Homo sapiens: one gene and its partners. The protein of the gene in region 1 purifies or fractionates together with the protein of each later gene. This does not show direct contact. Each region holds a gene or a part of one and is shown on either strand. Other genes may lie near its edges.

Evidence for each region. Proteins that work in one complex are often made in the same cells at the same time.
Region 2: the proteins of MPPE1 (region 1) and UGT3A2 purify together in Homo sapiens (affinity purification with mass spectrometry; 2 studies listed by BioGRID and IntAct, with this or other methods). This does not show direct contact.
Region 3: the proteins of MPPE1 (region 1) and LRRC3 purify together in Homo sapiens (affinity purification with mass spectrometry; 2 studies listed by BioGRID and IntAct, with this or other methods). This does not show direct contact.
Region 4: the proteins of MPPE1 (region 1) and EDEM1 purify together in Homo sapiens (affinity purification with mass spectrometry; 2 studies listed by BioGRID and IntAct, with this or other methods). This does not show direct contact.

Annotation. Positions count from the first base shown.
Region 1 is NC_000018.10:11,901,818-11,905,317, forward strand, and holds part of MPPE1 (metallophosphoesterase 1), read right to left. Parts: intron 1,040-3,500; exon of another isoform or gene 450-1,039; intron 1-449.
Region 2 is NC_000005.10:36,046,383-36,049,882, forward strand, and holds part of UGT3A2 (UDP-glucuronosyltransferase 3A2 isoform 1 precursor), read right to left. Parts: intron 3,039-3,500; coding exon 2,507-3,038; intron 1-2,506. UniProt on the Homo sapiens protein: UDP-glucuronosyltransferases catalyze phase II biotransformation reactions in which lipophilic substrates are conjugated with glucuronic acid to increase water solubility and enhance excretion.
Region 3 is NC_000021.9:44,459,419-44,462,696, reverse strand, and holds the end of LRRC3 (leucine-rich repeat-containing protein 3 precursor), read right to left. Parts: 3' UTR 501-3,278; downstream 1-500.
Region 4 is NC_000003.12:5,197,707-5,201,206, reverse strand, and holds part of EDEM1 (ER degradation-enhancing alpha-mannosidase-like protein 1), read right to left. Parts: intron 1,616-3,500; coding exon 1,512-1,615; intron 1-1,511. UniProt on the Homo sapiens protein: Extracts misfolded glycoproteins, but not glycoproteins undergoing productive folding, from the calnexin cycle.

The sequences.
Region 1 (3,500 bases):
AACAGAGTGAGACTCCATCTCAAAATAAATAAATAAAGGGGGAACGGCAAACAAATACTGGATTTTAACTATGTCCTTTCAGACAGAGAGGTCAAAAGCAGCCTTGCATATCATCTGGAGTCAACTGCTCTTGCTGAAATTCTCCTCCAAAACCCCACAACATCTTTATCAGCTGGTCAAGCTGTACTTTATCTTCTTCACTTAGAACTTTTGTCACCTCTCTTTTCTCTAAGGCAAACCACACATGCCGCATAATCGCAGTCACAACATACCTTTATCTTCCAACTGGGGACAGCTTTGAGTGAAAAATATCACTAATAAAAATTAAAACAGGGCAATGGTGTAAACCAGGACTGTCCCAGACAACTCAGGATGTGCAGCCACCCTGTGCTGCCTGTGCTTACTCTGACATAGAGGAGAAGCAGCAGTGCCTGTTTGCAGTCACCCACCTCATCTGTAAGAAACTTCGGAATGGACTGCACAAGTGGCAGGAACCATGCACCAGTATGGTGAAGGGCCTGGGTTCTCTGCTGGAGAGCCTCTGAGGGATAAATAACAGGTTCCTTAACGCCAGGCAATTTCCTTTGTTGTGATTAAATCAAATATGTCAAAGGCAGCCATTCGATCTTACTATCTCATTTTTCTTTCAAAAGGCCTAGAATCTCCTAAAATCCTAAAAGCTAAACCCAAAACCATAGCTGAAACTTTCTAACACCTTATGTTTCCTCCAGCTGTACAGAACTAGTTGAGAGGGAAGGAATGCTGACCTTCTGGGGCAGGCTGAGGAGTCTTCCAGTATGCAAACCCTTGCTGTTTGGTAGGTTTCTGGTTTCCCAAGATGAAATACCAGAATGACACCTTGATAATTCCTCTTCTACACCCCCTTCTCTTCATCAGAGTGAGCCTTGTTTGAGCAGTTATGACTAAGAGGCGCAAAAAGCATCAGTGAGTGGTGAGCAGGCTGGAGACAAGGCTGGCTGACAGCCCAAAGTGAGGCTCAGGGCAGGATAGGATGCAAAACTGCAGTCCTCCAGCTTCCCTGGATGAAGAGAGCAGGACAGAGGACATAGAGACAGCCTGTGGGTTTGCACTTCCAGGCAACCTGGGCTCTCCCTGCCCCAACTCCCCACTGAGCTCACTCAGCATGGCCTCTTACTCCTTGCAGATAAGCGACCTTACTGCAAACAAACCGGGTTAGAGGGGAGTTCTGGCGCTTCCCTCAAACTTCTGTGTTCTTGTTACAGATAGGCAGGCATGAGCGGGGCAGGTGAGGGCTCTTCCCACCTACCAGGAATGTCAGGTGATCACCAGGTGCCCATTCAACAGTTAACATATTGCCTCTCTAAAAACGATCATTTAGCAGCCAGCGCCAAGGAGAGACAATCTCCTGAGGGTCCACAGCTGCCACATTAAAGTGTTAATTAAATGCAGATGCCAGAGAGGGGCAACTTCCTGGGCATACACATCAGGAGACAAAATGGCAGAGTATGACCTTCTGGGGGCACTCCACAGGAAAAAGAAAGCCACAGATGGGCATGCGTACAACTTCCTAAACACACTGCTCATGCTCACCTCCCAAGCTTAAGAAGGGCACTGTGCATGCAGGCAGCCCACCCTAAGGGATGAATCATGGAGAAGGGAGGGGTGCAAGACGCCAGAAGTGGGTCAGCCTATAAAGTCCTAGGATTACGGTTAAACACTGCACTTGGCTGGGCACGGTGGCTCACGCCTGTAATCCCAGCACTTTGGGAGGCCGAGGCGGGCGGATCACAAGGTTAGGAGATCGAGACCATCCTGGCTAACACAGTGAAACCCCATCTCTACTAAAAATACAAAAAATTAGCCGGGCGTGGTTGCAGGTGCCTATAGTCCCAGCTACTCAGGAGGCTGAGGCAGGAGAATGGCGTGAACCCAGGAGGCGGAGCTTGCAGTGAACCGAGATCGCGCCATTGCACTCCAGCCTGGGGGACAGAGCGAGACTCCGTCTCAAAAAAACAAAAAAACAAAAACAAAAACAAAAAACACTGCACTTGACCTTCACATTGCCCTCTTGGGTCTCTTCCAAATGTACTTTTCTTTCTTTCCTGCTCTAAAGCTTTTTAATAACTTTCACTCCTGCTCAGAAACTTGCCTCAGTCTCTTTTTCTGCCTTATGCCCCTCAGTGGAATTATTTTTTTCTGAGCAGGCAAGAATTGAGGTTGCTGCAGATCTGTATGGATTTGCCACTTGTAAATCAAATACCTTCTACCCCTAACATTCTTTTTTCCAAAAATGAATTTAAAATATCCTACACAGAGCCATTCAACCAGAGGAAGACTTGGAAGGAAAGAAGGAAGGAGGACAGTAGAAAAGGAGAGAAGAGCAGAAGGGGATGGGGGAGCAAACAGGACAGAGAAAGAGAGCAAGCAAGCTGGCTGGCACTGTTACATATTTTCCTGAGAAGACCCTAATAACCATGTGAAGCAGCTATCTGGTATAACATAATCTTTTTTATTTATTTATTTATTTTTTTTTGAGACAAGGTCTCGCCCTGTCACCCACGCTGGAGTACAGTAGTGTGATCCCAGCTCAGTGCAACCTCCGCCTCCTGGACTCAAGCTATCCTCCCACTTCAGCCTCTGGAGCAGCTGGGATTACAGGTGAGTGTGTGCCACCACGCCCCACCAATTTTTGCATTTTTTGTAGAGACAGGGTTTCACCATGTCGCTTAGGCTGGTGGCAAACTCCTAGGCTCAAGTGATCCACTGGCCTCGGCCTCCCAAAATACTGGGATTACAGACATGAGCCACTGCGCCCAGCCCAACATGATCATTTTTTAAAAGATAAGAGTGGCTGTGCGGGGCATGGTGGCTCATGCCTGTAATCCCAGCACTTTGGGAGACAAAGGCAGGTGGACCATTTGAGGCCAGGAGTTCAAGACCAGCCTAGCCAACATGGTGAAACCCCATCTCTACTAAATATATTTAATACAAAAATTAGCCGGGTGTGGTTGAGTGAGCGTGTAATCTCAGCTACTTGGGAGGTTGAGGCACAAGAATCACTTGAACCCAGGAGGCGGAGGTTGCAGTGAGCCGAGATTTCACCATAGCACTCCAGCCTAGGCGACAGAGCGAGACTCCATCTCAAAAAAAAAGAAGAAAAAAAAAGATAACAGAACAAAAACCTATTTAGAAAACTTTTGACAGCAGATCCTTAAACAGAACACCTTCTGGGCAGGTGGCTCACACCCTGTAATCCCAGCACTTTGGGAGGTGGAGGCAGGGAGATCACTTGAGGCCAGGAGTTCAAGACCATCCTGGCCAACATGGCAAAACCCCGTCTCTACTAAAAATACAAAAATTAGCCTAGTGTAGTAGTGCACACCTGTAATCCCAGCTACTCAGGAGGCTGAGGCAGGAAAATCAGTTGAACCTGGGAGGCAGAGCTTGCAATGAGCAGAGATTGGGCCACTGCACTCCAGTCTGGGCGACAGAGGGAGACTGTCTCAAAACAAAACAAA
Region 2 (3,500 bases), on another chromosome or scaffold:
GATAAGGAAAATATAGTATATGTACACAATGGAGAACTCATCAGCCATAAAAAACAAAGGGATCCTGTCATTTGCAACAATATGGATGAAACTAGAATACATTATGTTAAGTGAACTAAGCCAGACACGGAAAGACAAACTGCATGTTCTCACTCATTTATGGGAGCTAAAAATTAAAACAATTAAACTCATGGAGATAGCAGAACGATTGTTACCAGACGCTGGGATGGGTAGTTAGGGGCTGGGGGAGTGGGTATGGTTAATGGTACGAAAATATAGTTAGAATGTATAAGGTCCAGTGTTTGATAGCACAACAGGGTGACTACAGTCAACAATAATTTGTAGTATATTTTCAAGTAACTAAAAGAATATAATTGGAATGTTTGTAACATAAAGAAATGATCAATGCCTTGATGTGGTGGATTAAAAAAATAATAATAAAGTAGTAATGCTCTGTCCCAAAAGCAGGCCTGGACAGCTTATATCTTAAAGTCCCCCAGGTAGCTCTTAACAAAGTTAGTGTTTTGAAAGGAAAATAAATCTCAGGATCCCCAAATCTAAGCCAAAGAGAAAAGTCAAGCTGGGAACTGCATCAGGCAAAACTTCCTCCCATTCCATTCCTAAACAAGTGTATGTCGGCTCGCTTCCTCTGTCCTATTGTTTCACTAACCCAGACTAAGGCATAAGTGATTATTTCTGTAAATTGTGCACTCAGTGAAAGGCTAGTCAGAGACTCCAAAAAATGCAGTTGTTTGTCTCTTGTCTACCTATGACCTAGAATCCCCTTCTCCGGCCTTTCTGGACCAAACCAATGTTTATCTTACACATATTGATTGGTGTCTCATGTCTCCCTAAAATGTATAAAACCAGCCTGTGCCCCAACCACCTTGGGCACATGTCATCAGGACCTCCTGAAGCTGTCATGGGTGCATCCTCAACCTTGGCAAATAAAGTTTCTAAATTGGTGAGACCAGCGTCATATATTTTGGGCTCACAATATCTAATGTCTTCATTTTGTGTTTGGCACAATTTTGCCAATTCTTACTTCCAAATATTTCTTTGAACTCTGATTCTGATTCTCTCTGCCCTACAGGGGCTCACCCCAGCTCCCAACCCATCATTCTATTACGTGGTTCAGACTCTACTGGATTCCAGCCAGCATACCACTTACCATTCCCAAGGACTTCTTTAAAACAGCCTTGTCATCATTTTTATACTGACAAGGCAACATAAGACCATTATATAAAAATTGGAAAATGCAGAGAAGAAACATAATTTTTTTTAAGTGTATATTGTCTCACAGCCATTACAACCCTTACTCCCATTGTTATCCTCTTAACAATGTCCTCCCCTTACTCCATGGTGGAGGCCTGATCCACCCACCTGATAGCTAAGGTTTCTGGTAAATCCCCACAGCTTTACTCATGCAATTGAACCTTCTACTCCACTAGTGTAGCCAGTGCCACCCAGGGAAGCCAGCCTTATGGCCATCTCAATTACATCTCCACGTATTGGGACCCCTGCTCCCCAACCTGGGGTGCTTTCCCTCTCAGCTCCATTCCTAAAACTTCCTGCCACAAATGCAAAGCCCATATCACCCATAGGTCTTTCCCCAACTCTTCCTGCTCACTCAGTGCAAGTTAAAAGAGTAGACGCTTGGGTGGCTGCAAAGTCCAGGCCCTTAGGACCTCTGAAATACATGGTGGGGGAAGGACACCTACATCACCTGAGCTTCTGTCCTTCTCCATTTATAAAAATGAAGATGATCACACCTCCCTACAGGTGGCAGGATATTAAATATGATAACTTCTGTAAAATGGGAACCCAGTGCTCAGAGGCAACAGGCAGCCAACTCATCTTAGCTCTCCTCCTTTTGAAAAATTTCTATAGCAGAGGTTCTGAGTTGTGAAATTGCGCTGTGCATTCAAATCACCTGAGCAGCATATGCAAATTACAGTGGCAGGGGTCCACCCCAGAGAAATCAAGCCAGAAGATCTAGGTGGAGCCAGGAGCCAGGGCTCTACAGGCAGGGAACCCTGGAGATAACACCGGCAGTTCTTGCTGTCAGACCCAAACAGATCCACCCTGCTTACTCCGAATCCATAGTGTTGTCATTTCATTGTGAGCAGCTTATCTCCTTAACAATTACTGCATGTAATGGGCACTAACTACATGTTTATTGTACATGTGATCACACAAAATAAAAATGCAAACAAAAAATGAAACTTTAATACAGGGCTTATTTTATCAAGGCTAGGACTAGGGTGTGGCAAGAGAGGAGCCAGAAGAATCCATATAAAGATGCCCTTGATCTCAGGATGGTGCAAGGCCTAACATTATACTTGCACAACACTGAAACTCATCACTTCCTTTAAAAGCATGCCCTAGGTGCCTCCCTTGCCTATCCCGACTTTAGCCTCAGGATCCTACTGGCAAGTGGCAGCCACCAACTATGCACTGAAGGCCTCTGCGTGAATCCCAAACTGAATGCTGAGGGTTCACTTACTTGTGGTACTGGTTTAATAGGTTTTTCCATCAAGCCTCCAACATAAACAGTGTTGGGAAGCAGAGGTCGAGCAAAATCAAAGGCAAAGTCAGAGTTAATGAACCACAACTCTGCTTTCAGTAGAAGATGAGACAAAACTGGCCTAGAGCCTTCTGTGAAATGTTCCTTGATGGTGTTGTCAAATGTAGACTGCATGTGCTGTTGCCTCCTGCAGAAACTAAAGAACATCAGAAAATTCTTCACTCGGCCCCAGAAGTCCATGTGATCAGTCAGCAAGGAACGGAATACTGGAACATAAGACAAGGGGATTGGTAGCCCAAATTCCAAAGAGCCGAATGAAGTGGAAAGAATGGCCACAAATGGCTTCCCAAGCTTCTCAGCAATCAGGAAAGGACAGTAGTCAAAAGTTTCAACTATCACCATGTCGAAGTTCTCATTCTTTAAGGAATCCATGATATCCTTTCTATTTAAAAAATGACTGCACTGCAACGCCAAGTATTCTAGAACATTTAATAAGTTTTCAAATTTTCCTCTGTAAGAAAAAAATGATAATAAATATTCATGGGAAGTGTTAAATTTACAGTACATAAAAGTATCTTGAGATACAAAGAAAATATCCCAGGAAAGCAACAACCTTTCTAGCAGTCACCCACAAATTCAACCAGTTTCCCACAAATACCCTCTGCCATAATTATCCTGGCTTAAATGTTTCTACTCCCTAGAGTGTACCCTTCTCCCTTCCCCTTTTCTCTCCTTATCCAAATCCCAACCACCATCAATGCCGACTCAAGGTCTTCTACTCTGGGAGCCATCTCTCAGAGCAGCAGATCTCAGAGTTCTATCTCATTGATAAATTAGGTGACACTCTGTTTAGCCCTCATTTACACATGGAGTTTTTATGAGTGATTTTCTTATTTATCCAACCAAATTGTGTAAGTAACTTGATGATAGAGTTTATCAATATTGATGATATGTGCTACGTTTTAGCACTATG
Region 3 (3,278 bases), on another chromosome or scaffold:
TCCCCTGGCAGGAGCACCACACCCTGCTATTGACCAAGAGCCTGCACGATGGTGGTCTCTGGAGACCCTCGCCCCAGCCTGGGAGGCAGCCACACAACAAGGCCCCCCGCAGTGTGGGCTGGAAGACACTGACAGCCTGCGGCGGCAGGAGCGAGGGTACCCAGCATGTTGACATTTGCCAGTTTCCTTGATGTAGAGACTGCTGCCAAGGTCACGTTCAGGCTACCATCATGTCACCTGGTGCAAAAATGCCTGAAACCTTAACAGTTGGCTGTCAGGAGCTACATTTAACCATCCGCGCTGTCATGAGCCTGCTGGGAGCCTGCACAAGCCGGCTCTGCACCCTCTGCGGGGCTCACGCAGGTTCAGCTCCTGCAGCCCTTCCGGGGCCACAGCTGTGGATCCACAGGTCCCTCAGCTCCATGGCACTGCAAGGTCTGGGGGAGGGGGAGGCTCGGGGTTTGGGCCGCAGAGTTGCCGACGACAGAATCCACACTTGCTGACTGAAGCACGAAGAGCTTTACTGAGGGCTCACAGAAGGGCCGAGAGACAACAGAAACAGACACCGGCACAGGCTGGGCCAGCAGCATGGCCCGCTCACACCTGCCTCTCCAGGTTACACAGTTCAGGATCCAAGTCCTGTGCAAATGCATCTGACTGGCGAACAGAAATCCCATCAAGAACAGCTGCAGGGAGACTGGGGTCACGGTTTTCAGCTCCTGGCCACTGCGGTCCAGGAAGGCCAGCCAGACCAGGCCTAAGCCAATCCCCCACATCCTCCATGAGGGGACCTGCCAAGAGCGTCCAGGACTCCGCGCCGCCCTCCGTGCTATGTGCTGTGGGGCCAGCTGCCTCCCAGCCATGGACCACACCTGCTCAGAGTTCCTTAGAAGCCGGGCTCCTTGCCTTGCTGCCTTGGCTCTGGTGACCTCTGCATTTTGCAGACACCCGGGAGGAGCTGCCCAAGACGGCAGCCCCACTCCAGACCCTGTCTGATGGGCCGTGCACGTCTGCACATTCCACAGAATGTGACCAGCTGTGGAGCTCAATACAAAATGGCCCTCTGCTGGCCGGGCCCTGACTTCAGCCTGGACACTCGTCCCCATGTCCTGCCCAGATGATCACTGGGCAGAGCCGGAGATTCCTGGCTGCTTTGGTTATGAAACACATGTCCAGGTTTAGCCCAACCTCATATGCAGTTTACACTCTCATCTACCCTCCCTGTAGGCAAGGCTGGGGGCCCCAGGCTCTGTGGCGGGAGGTGGTCCCCGGTTCCCCTCCTGCCAGCAGCCCCTGCAGAGGAGGCCGGGGGTCTCTCAGGGCCAGATTCCACTTCCCCAGGGCCCTTCATGAGAGGAGCCTCCTCACTCACCCACAGCTGCCAGCACAACCCACTCCCCACTGCCTGTCACGCAACCCCCGGCAGGCCCACGCCCCGCACCCATAGCCTCCAGCCAGCTCCTGTGGGGCCTGCGCCGTGAGTGGGCCTGGGAGTCTCCCTGGCCTCAGTGGCCTTCCTGCCCCAGGGGGCCCCACCCCACCAGGGATGGTCCTGTGGATCAGGATGGCTCTGCTGGTGGCTATACCAGCTCTGGGCCCATCCCCCACTGCTGGACCCCACCCCGCACAAGGAAGCCTCTGGGCAGGCATCTGGGGCTCCAAAGCCCAACAGGAAACCAGCAGGGAGAGGGCCCGGCCTGGGCTCCTCTCCTAGGGTTAGGAGTTAGCTTTAGAGTTGGAGTTAGGGCTGGGTTGGGTTAGGTTAAGGGTTAGTATCAGGGTTAGGGTGAGGATTGGGTCAGGGGTTAGCATCAGGGTTAGGGTGAGAGTTGAGTCAGGGGTTAGCATCAGGGTTAGGATTGGGTCGGGTCAGGGGTTAGCATTAGGGTTAGGGCGAGGATTGGGTTAGGGTGGGGGATGGTTTAGGGGTTAGCATTAGAGTTAGGGTTGGGTTGGGGTTCAGGCTCTGCCTCCCATGATGCCCAGGTAGGTTCCCGGGGTGAAAGTGGTGAATGGGCGGCATCAGGAAGCTAAGCCCTGCCCATCCAGTCTGGCTGGAAGATTCTGGCTCCCCGGTGGCCCAGGAGTCACAGAATACCCCCAATTTCCTATCCCCTCCCCCTGCCTTGTCTCGCAAGGCCGAGACCTCCACCATGTCCACACTGTGAACTGAGACATTCCCTTTGTCCCCGCCTCACCGCTATCAACACTGGTGGCCTGGCTGGTGTGGGGCTGAGCCCACGGCCTCTGCAGATGTGGGAAACTCTTGCAATCAGTGCAGCATGGAGGCAGAGGGGCTGATTTGGCCTGGGCATCCCAACGGGCAGCAGGTCCCAGGGTGCACATGCTCACATCTGGGCTGCAAAGAACTGAGTCACAGGGAGAGGCGGGGTGCTCTGGGGCAGGCAGCGATGTCATCTCAGGGGTGCTCCGCCACCCCTCCTTCCGCAAGTGTCCATCATGGGCTCCAGGCCCCGCCAGTAAAGAGGTCACAAGATGGGAGAGGAGGGGACGGCAGAGAAAGGAAGTGGAGGGAAGGGCAAGGGAGGGGAGGACATTAGAGGGCAGGAAGGGGAGGGCTGTACCCCGGGAGCGCTGAGGACTTGCAAGCACCCACGGTGGGAGCTCCAGTGAGCATGAAGGAGCTTTGGGGTCCCACAGTGTTGGGGTCTCTATGGTCTTCCTTAGAGGGGAGGTGCTTTCACCTATGTTGGTGGGGCAGGGGGCACAGTAAGGCCAGGACGGTGGGCAGCTCATGGACCTGACTGAGCTCACAGTGCAGGGGACAGGGCCTCCGGTGTCCTCCTGGTCCTCTCCCCATCTCCTCCTCCCAGCAGGAGGTGGACAGGGGCCCAGCAGACCTTCACCAAGGAGAAGGCCAGACCCTGGGCTGAGGCAGCCCAGCAAATTGGGGCAGGGAGGGACGGGCCTGCCCCTGCCCTGTGCACCTCCTGAAGGGCCACGTCTGGGTGATGTCCAGTGTCTGGGCTGATTCTAGGGTAAGGACAAATGAAGAGTCCCCTGGCAGCAGGGAAAGGGCACCCCAAAATGCGAGATGGGACTGGCTGGCACCCACAGGACACAGGGCTGAGGAGAGGCCCTGCCTTCACCACCCAGGCCTCAGTTCACACTCTCCTTGGGACCTGGGGTCATGCGTGCTGGGCAAACCCACCACAGGCACCCTGGCATGGAGAAGGGGTGGCAGGAGGACGCCAATCACCATGTGACCCTAGGCCTGCTGGCCAGGCCAGCAACAGTTCACCTGCCCTACCTGCATC
Region 4 (3,500 bases), on another chromosome or scaffold:
TAGCCTGTGTAACAGAGCAGGACCCTGTCTCTTAAAAAAAAAAATAAGAGTGTACTAACTGTTCTCAGAATAAATATTACCTATTAGTATTATTAAATTACTCCTGATTTATTTCACTTGGGGAAAACACTCATAAAAAAACAGAAGCTGGGCATGGTGACATTTGCCTGTAGTCCCAGCTATTTGGGAGGCTGAGGTGGGAGGATCGCTTGAGCCCAGGAGTTCAAGGCTGCAGTGAGCCGTGATAGCACCACTGCACTTCAGCCTGGGCAACAGAGCAAGACCCTGCTCTAAAATGAAAAAAAAAATTTAATTTAATTCAAATTAAAAAAAAAAAAACAGAGAAAGGTAAGACAACAAATACTAAGTAATTTTTGTTGTTTTGGCTGCCAAGCAACTTCCCTAACACCGTAACATCTGGTAAAGAGGCAAGGTGAAGAGGAGGAGGAAAAAATGACCTACTAAGAGGCAGCAGGCTACCAGCTTATACCTAAGTCCTTGTAGACCCATAAAGTCCCATTCTAAAGATCTGAAGTAGGCTGTGATATATGTCAGAACAAAGGTTTTCACCAATTTAATTTTAAATAAGTATTACATCTGTGAACTGGAATGTTATGCAGTTGATACAATTTTCAAAAGATGTAAACAGGAAAATAACCACAATGTATCAAAAAAAGCAATATACAATATACTAGGTATACAGCATGATCCCAATCCACTAAACAAATAGAGAAAAAGAGAGAGACAGAGAGAGAAATAGAAGTGAGAGATATACCTAACAAAGAAATATACTAAAATGGTAAGCAGTGATTTTCTGTGGGTGGTAAGATGGGAAACTCTCATTTCCTTCAGAAATATGTAGGGGTTGTCCTAGGACACGGTGAAAGAAGAAAATGAAATCAGACTATAAAGGGAAACCATGAAATTCTGTACTAGACAGACACCTATTTTACACCCCCGTTAAAACATAAATGTACCCAGGCATGGTGGCTCATGCCTGTTATCCCAGCACTTTGGGAGGCCAAGGCAGGCGGATCACTTGAGGTCAGGAGTTCGAGACCAGCCTGGCCAACATGGTGAAATCTCATCTCTACTGAAAATACAAAACTTAGGTGTGGTGGTGAGTGCCTGTAATCCCAGCTACTCTGGAGGCTGAGATATGAGAATGCCTTGAACCTGGGAGGTGGAGATTGCAGTGAGCCAAGATTGCACCACTGCCCTCCAGCCTAGGTGGCAGAGACTCCATTTCAAAAAAAAAAAAAAAAAGAGTTTAATCTATAAAAACAAAACAAAATACAAACGTGTCTTTCCCTTCAGTCCGGAATGTGATTACTTTGAAATAATTGTTCCAGTTTTGACAGATATGAACATGAAAAATGCACACTGCACCCATAAAGCCCATATGGACTCCCTGCCTGGATCATGTGGCAAAAAGACCCTCAAAGGTATTTTTTTCTTTAAACACATAAAAAGAAGTCTCCAATTCATTTTATGAATATTCATTATTTTACCTTATCGTGGCCTCAAAGACTTGGACGGTGGAATCTTTGTCAAATGAAACTGTGTTGATCACTAACTTGACGGCTTTCTGGAACTCGGATGAATTTCCCATTATCTTTAAAAAGAGGAACACAGGTCATTACAGCAACTTGAAATGAAACTGAGGCTGTATCATCACAGCAGCCCAGTCACGTCACCTAAATGTCTGTATGTGGTTTTGCTACCATAGGAGTAGAAACACAAGAGACAGAAAAGCAGTTATTTCTTAGCATATATTCCCAGCACATGGCTGGCCCATTTCCTCCAACTCAAGAGTCCTGTCTCCAAAGGACAAAACTGTGAAAATAATTCCTTGTAAAATCATTGGCACTCCTCATCTTCCCAACTCCACTCTCCAGCAAACTTCACTATGATCTTATTTAACATGCCAGGCATTGTGGTTTCTAAAACTTCTGGCAGGTATACAAATAAATCAGAAAACTGAAGAAACAAAAATATGTCTTTCTCTCTGCTCCTCAAATAAATCAGCAGCTTGGGTGCTTGGCTCCCAGGAGACCAAAACATGTGGAAAACTGAATGAACTTGTTGATTGTTATCCAGATGCCTAAACACTTTGAGAAATAGTGGTAATATCTTTTGGAGCACAGGATAAAACCAGTGACTGATTTAAAAGAAACAAAACATATGAATAATCAGCTCTATGTCCTTTTTAAAAAGTGATCTAGAATTATGATTCCTATTTTGGGTATGTAGATACGACGTCACACTAAGCCACTCTCTCCTATGTGAAGCACAGTTGGGCATCAAACTTTATAGATTAACCTGAATCAAAATTATTTCATTCCACTCTAAATTTTATGACAACCCTGAGACTATAATGACATCATAAGGACATACTGTGATAGAAAAATAAATTTCTGGGACCCCAAAATCACTAAGCCAAAGGGAAAAGTCAAGCTAGGAACTGCATCAGGCAAACCTGCCTCCCATTTTATTCCTAAATAAGATAGCTACAAAGATTCAAAAAAAAAAAAAAAAAAAAAAGCTATATACGTCCCTTACAATTTACCTACAAGGAAATTCCTTGTGGGCCTCAAGATCTTCCCCTCAAAACAATTCTGCTGAATTTCACCCAGGCAATGTAAATTGACAGTTTATCTTCACAGGTACAAACAAAGGACAGAACTCAGTCATCCCTCTGCTCACCTAAGAAAAATGCATATCTGATTGCTTCCTCTGCCCTACTGTTTATGTAAAACTGCAGATTCACTAAGCCAGACAAAGGCATAAGTGACTATTCCTCTACCTTTGTCACAGGTAAACTGTATATTCCGTGAAAGGCTAATCAGAGAGTCAACCGGCTGGACACGGTGGCTCAGGTCTGTAAGCCCATACTTAGGGAGGCCAAAGCGAGCGGATCACTTCAGGCCAAGAGTTCAAAACCAGCCTGGCCAACATGGCAAAACCTTGTCTCTACTAAAAATACAAAAAATTAGCCAGGCGTGGTGGCGCATGCCTGTAATCCCAGCTACTCGGGAGGCTGAGGCACAAGAACTGCTTGAACCCCTGGGAAGGTGGAGGGTGCAGTGAGCCGAGATCTCACCACTGCACTCCAGCCTGGGCAACACAGCAAGACTCTGTCTCAAAAAAAAAAGACAAAAAAAATGTAACCATTTGTCTTTTATCTGCCTGTGACTTGGAAGTGCCCCCTCACCCCACCCCCAGCACTTCAAGTTGTCTCACTTTTCTGGACTGAACCAATGTACATCTTACACATACTGATTGATGTCTCATGTCTCCCTACAATGTATAAAACCAAGCTGTGCCTAACTACATTTTTTCCACCTCATCGTTATTTTGCTGTAACCTACAGAGTAAGTACAGACATTTCTAGCTTTCAGTTCTTTCTTTTTAGAAGATGATGCAATAATGCTGCAAGTTGCATCCAATGGTCAGGGGACTGCTATCTTCACAGTGTTTCCCTAGCACATCTGTTAAAG